Linked DNA regions of Homo sapiens: region 2 is linked to region 1. Evidence: fine-mapped QTL for protein levels in blood plasma. A gene starts in region 1. The other region holds a variant in brackets. All regions are shown on one strand. Distances are from middle to middle.

Evidence for each region. PIP is the posterior inclusion probability: the model's chance that the variant is causal. The UK Biobank Pharma Proteomics Project read protein levels with antibody pairs (Olink). The fine-mapping took linkage between variants from a reference panel, not from the people measured, so its PIPs are less certain.
Region 2: its variant is fine-mapped to the plasma level of the NPTXR protein (UK Biobank, PIP above 0.99).

The regions. Positions count from the first base shown.
Region 1 is chr22:38,841,619-38,844,499 of GRCh38, forward strand. It overlaps NPTXR (neuronal pentraxin receptor), which reads right to left and starts at 2,410. Exons shown (of 5, transcript NM_014293.4): 1 at 1,617-2,410. The coding sequence starts at 2,240. RefSeq lists a silencer at 1,929-1,998.
Region 2 is chr22:38,823,361-38,826,259 of GRCh38, forward strand. The region is part of intron 3 of NPTXR (neuronal pentraxin receptor); the gene reads right to left. Among named protein-coding and RNA genes, the nearest start is that of NPTXR, 19 kb to the right of the region's middle. The variant C/G (reference allele first, on the strand shown) is at 1,332.

The DNA.
Region 1 (2,881 bases):
GTTTTGGCTGTATTTTAAAAATGAGTAATATTATAGCTTAATGATAAAAATAGCCATCACTCAAATTGACTGAACATACCTGTGTGCCAGGCACTATTCTTGGCCTTTCATATAAAGTACTTAATCCTCCTAATATCCCAGTGAGGTAGGTGCTATTACTATCCCCATTTTACAGGCGAGAAAACTAAGACTTCCCTTCATTGCATACTTTCACCTTTTTCCTGATTATTTTCCTGCTCTTGGTTCTCTCATCCTAGAAATCCCCCAGAGCTGGAGTCGGGGAAGAGGTGGGTATGGGCCCGGCTTTTCTCCTGCCTCTGCCACCTCTCTTAGGACGTTTCTGAGCTGAGTTTTCTCATCCGTAAGGTGAGGGGTTGGCTGCAATGGCTGACTGGCTGCACTCTGACACCCTGTGGGGAGGGTGCTGACACCAGTACAGACGTCCTGGAGGGCTGTCAGACCACGACATCCTCAGCCTTGTGAGTGGGCATCACCAGTGCTGCTTGCCCAGGATTTAACTTAAAAAGCCCCGGGAGTAAGGGGTCCCTGCATTTACTCCCCGCCTCTCTCCTCCCTCCAACTTGCCTGCTGCACTCCACCTGGGTGGAGGTAGCAGAGGGGGCAGCGCGGGCTTTGGCCTCTTTCTCTCTCTTCCTTCCACAGATCTGATTTTGTTGCTTAACCCCCTTCCTTGTGGTCTGGAAGTCAGGCCATGGCTGGGGTAGTGAATGTGTCCCGGATGTTTGTCCTGCCCAGTCTGTCTGCCTTGCACTTCTGGGAGCCCCAAATTCATTCTTACAGGGAGGAAGGTGGCCATGGGACTCCAGGGGGGAAATGACTGGCCCAGGGTCACATGAGAGCCAAGAGTGGGTTCCCCCATGCTGGACCCCTTGTGTCTGACCCCAAGCCTGAGTCAGGAAAGCCTGGAAAAGTGAGTGGAGGAGGAGGAGCTCGGGGGGCCCTGTTCTCCATTCAGCCCCCACCCAAGAGCTGTGGGCTTCCAGGTGTGTGAGGCTGGGCGCCTGGCACCTGAGCTCCTGCGGTTTGGGTCATAGTCTGAGCCAGAGTGGGAGATTCAGGGTAGGGAGGTGGTGAGGGGCACCCAGGTTTGTCTTATAGGGCACTCTGTTCCCGGCTCTGTGTAATGAGGGGAGGACCCCAAGTCCTTTGGACAGCGCATCCATCTCCTGGCCATAAAGTGTGAGCGTGGAGCTGGGCTGATTTGGGGGTGTCCGGAAGAAGGAAATGAAAGGGACATTTAATGAGGTCCTAGTACGTGCCAAGCATTTTCACACACCTACATTTGATTCAATTTCCACTACAAGTGGACACTGTTATACCTATTTTACAGACACAGAAACTGAGGCTCAGAGAGGTGCCTGGAGACGGAAAAGGGTGGGGAGCGAATCTTTCTGGCGCGCCCTCTGTGCCTCAGTCACCGTGCCAGACGCCTGCCCGCGTTCCCTATCGAAATCCCCCCGCCTCGCCAGCGAGGAAGGCGCGATCGTCCCCGGAACACAGACGGGAGACCGGAGGCTCGGGGACCGCCGGACGACCGCGGCCGGGCGGCCCCTCACACCACCCGGGCGGCTCCCCCGACGGCGCGCGGCGCTCACCTCCAGGCGGTCGATGCGGTCCCGCAGGGCGCGCACGGCGTCCTCCAGCTCCAGAATGAGCGCAGGCGAGTCCCAGGGCCCGTCGGCCATGGTGTCGCGGCGGGGCCCGGCGCCCTGGAGGCCGCGCGGCAGGCCGCTCTCGCAGCGGCCCAGCTTGCCGGTGAGCTCACGGATGGTGTCCTGGTCGGCGCGGATGCGCGCCTCCTGCTGCAGCGCCGTCTGGCGCAGCTGCTCGGCCGTGCTCTGCAGCAGCAGCAGCTCTTCGCGCTCGCCCGGCGCAGCGCCCGCCGCGTCCCCCTGCTGGGCCCCCGACGGGCAGGCAGCAGCCAGCGGCGTGCACAGGAAGCGGCTGAACAGGGGCCCGGGCGGCAGCGGGTGCGCGCTGGCCGCGGGTGCCCCGGGCAGCGCGGGGGGCCCGGCTGAACCGCCCGCGCCGTGCAGCGCGCTCAGGCTCCGCTGCGGGCCCGGGGACGCGGCGGCGCCCGAGGCGACCGAAGCATTGTCGGCGCCGCCGGGCAGCGCCCGCGCCGGGCTGGCCGCCAGGGGCACGCTGGCGATGATGCAGATGACGGCACCGAGGAACGCCAGCATGCCCGCGGCCAGCAGCACGGCCAGGAACTTCAGCGTGAGGCGGGCGGCGGGGGCGCCCGAGGCCCCCGGCAGGCGCGGCGGCGGGGTCGGGGCGCGGAGCCCGGGCGCGCTGGGCCGAGCGGGGCAGGCGCGGGAGCCGGAGCCGGAGCCGGAGCCGGAGCCGGAGCTGGAGCTGTCGCCGCGGCCGCTGCTGCCGCCGCTCTGAGCCCGGGCGGCGGGAGGAGGAGAAGACGGCAGGCGGCGGGGAGGGGGAGCGGGCGCGGCGGCCCCGCCCCACTCGCTTCCCCGGGCCGGCCCTGGCCCCGGCCCAGCCCCGCACCCGTTCAGTGCCGGGCGCCCGGCTGGGGGCGCCGCCGGGGATGCGGCGAGGAGCGAGGGCAGCGCCTGGGACCTTATCTCGCCGCGGTCACAGCGCAGGGGCCGGCGACCCGAGGGCCGCGCGGCGGGGCTCCTGGGTGACCCCCATCCCAGCCCTCCCGTGCTCGGGCCCCCTCCCCAAGCCGGTTATGTTCACATCCACCCGGGAGGGAGCTTTCTTCCGGGTGGGGCTGTGCACTGGGCGCGCCACAAGCTCGGTCGCAATTGAGCCTTGCCGTGGACAGGCTCACAATAGAAATGAGGAAACTGAGACACCTGAGGTCAGGCCTCTGTCCAAGGTCACCGGGTGGCTGCGT
Region 2 (2,899 bases), 18 kb before region 1:
TTCCAGGGCCCGACCCCAGGCCTGACCCTCTCCATCCTCCTGCCCAGTGTCTTTCCCTGACTCCTGTCTCCTCTTTCCTCAAAGACCAAACCAGATCACAAGGGACTCTCTGGTTTTGGTTTTCAGTTGTCACAAGGTAGTTCACTCACTCTCCAACAGGCCTATTAAGGTCACTTGGGGAGAGAGGGATGTCTCATAATCCCAACTTCCCCTGAACACCTCACACAGCACTCAGCACACAGCTAGGGCTCAAGAAGTACTGGCAGGGATAGAATGAGCCTTGGACTCAGAGGCCAGGCTCCAGCATCTGGCCCTGGCTCTGCCACCAACCCCTGTGTGATCTGGGGAGGCTGCTCCTTCCTCCCTGGGCCTCAGTTTCCTTATCTGTAAAGTGAGGTCAGACAAGGGATGACAAGTCTGCAAGGGATGGCAAATCTTCCTCCACCCAGGGCAGACATAGCCAATCAATCACGAGCCTCGATTTAGCTCAGATCCCTCAGCACAGTGCTCTGGAAAGCCACTGCTGATGGGTTAGAGCTGGCCTGTAAGATGAAAGGTGCTTGCTGTCTGTGGATTTGGTGCTCCCAAAGGGCTTCCTCATCTGGTAAGTTTCCTGAGGTCACATTTTTTTTTTTGAGATGGAATTTCACTATGTTGCCCAGGATAGAGTGCAGTGGTGTGATCTCAGCTCACCACAGCCTCCATCTCCTGGTTCAAGCAATTCTCCTCCCTCAGCCTCCCAAGTAGCTGGGATTACAGGCGTGCACCACCATGCCCAGCTATTTTTTTTTTTTTTTTTTTGTATTTTTAGTAGAAACGGCGGGATTTCACCATATTGGCCAGCCTGGTCTTGAACTCCTGACCTCAGATGATCCACCCACCTCAGCCTCTCAGAGTGCTGGGATTACAGGCAAGAGCCACCTTACCCAGCCTGAGATCACAATTTAATGTAACATTCTCTGAGGCCTACGTGGTGCCTGGCCTTGTTGTGGATCCTGGGGATGTGGAGCTGGTCCACGCCTTAAATGAGCTGAGTCTGCAGGAGGGGAAGGACTTTGGGGCAATGCTATAAGACAAAATAACGGAGGGCATATGGGAGGTACAGAGGCTGCGAGGCCCAGAGGTAGAGGGGATATGGGAACAGAAGCCACGTCAAAACCCGTCTGGAAGGACAATGGATCCACCATTCCATTGCTAGGCAAAACAAGTGGTGGGCACAGAAGGAGTAAAGGCTTAGAGGCTGGAATAAAAAGGGAACAGTGAGCAGTCTGTTAGGCTGGCTCTCAAAAGGACTCTAGAGCGTCCCAGAACAGGGCTGCCCAATGCCCTGT[C/G]CAGGGTGCTGAATTCCTTCTAATGAGAACTGAGTGCTGAACTTGGGCCAGGCCAAGGACGGCAGCCAGGGGGTGATGAAGGGCACAAGGCAGCAGGATCTAGATGTAGTCCAGCCACCCCGGTGGTCGTAGGGTTTATTGGGCCACAAGGGAAAGTCACTGGTCCCTGGACTCATCTCCTCCCTCCTCCTCCTCCCCCTCCAGAATGCCATGAAATGCACCTTCTGCTAAGCTGGGTCTGATGGGTATCAATCACTCCTAGTGGCTTTATGTGTTGTGGGCTGGTCACAGGTGGGTACGATATGTGGTATCTGCATTTCCAGGGGGGTCTCAATAGACCACCATGCCTGCAAGGCCCAAAACAATGTGGCAGGTTGGGGAGGAGCTTTAGGAGTGGATGACAGTGATGAGATGCTCCCCTTCCTCTCCCCTCAATTACCATGCTCCTGCCACATCATTCTCCCTGCCTTGTCCTTGTCCTGCCTTCCAGCCAGGCTGAAGGAGGGGCATCGGGGAGGGAGGCCTGGGCATGAGGAAGATGGGTGGCCCAAGGGCAGAACAGGGGAGGGGTTAAAAGGTGGTTTCCGGAGCCCAAGACCCTGAATCACATCACACCCCAGCAGCTGTGTGGCCAGGGTGCATTACTTCCCCTCTCTGAGCCTCAGTTTCTCCATCTGCAAAATGGGGATAATGAGGGTACCTACTTCCCAGTGCTGTTGGGAAGGTCAAGGGTAATAATGTGAGTAAACTGCTTATTAGCACAGTGCCCAGTATAATAAAAATAGCTCACAGTTATTGATGTCTGCTAAACGCTAGGATCTGCTCAAAGCCCTCTACATGCATTTAAGCCACTTCTCACTACAACCCTAAGAGACAAGAGTTCTTATCATTCCTGCTTTAGAGATAAGCAAACTGAGGCACAGGGCAAGTAGAAGACTAGTCTGAGGTCACACAATGGTGAAGATGCAGAACCAAGACTCAAACCAGCATTTGGGTCCCAGAGCCTGAGCACAACACCTTTCTACTCTCCATAGCGGGGAGGGCCCGAGGGGCTGGCTCCAGGGAAGTAGAAGGAACGAGGAGGCCACAAGCACTCCCTTCCTCCCTCCATCCCCAGGTAGGTCTGTGCACCTCCCTTCTCTCTCTCTCTTTTTTTTTTTTTTTTTTTTGACACAGAGTCTTCCTCTGTCGCCCAGGCTGGAGTGCAGTGGTGCGATCTTAGCTCACTGCAAGCTCTGCCTCTCGGGTTCTGGCCATTCTCCTGCCTCAGCCTCCCGAGTAGCTGGGACTACAGGTGCCCACCACCACACCCGGCTAATTTTTTTGTATTTTTAGTAGAGATGGGGTTTCACCATGTTAGCCAGGATGGTCTCAATCTCCTGACCTCGTGATCCGCCCGCCTCGGCCTCCCAAAGTGCTGGGATTACAGGCATGAGCCAGTGCGCCCGGCCACCTCCCTTCTCTTTAAGTCCAGGATGATGAGCAGGGCCCTGGGGGCAGACACCTCAGCCCTGTCCCATAGCTGGGTCACTGGGGAAGTCACTGGATCCCCAAGAGCTTCACTTGCC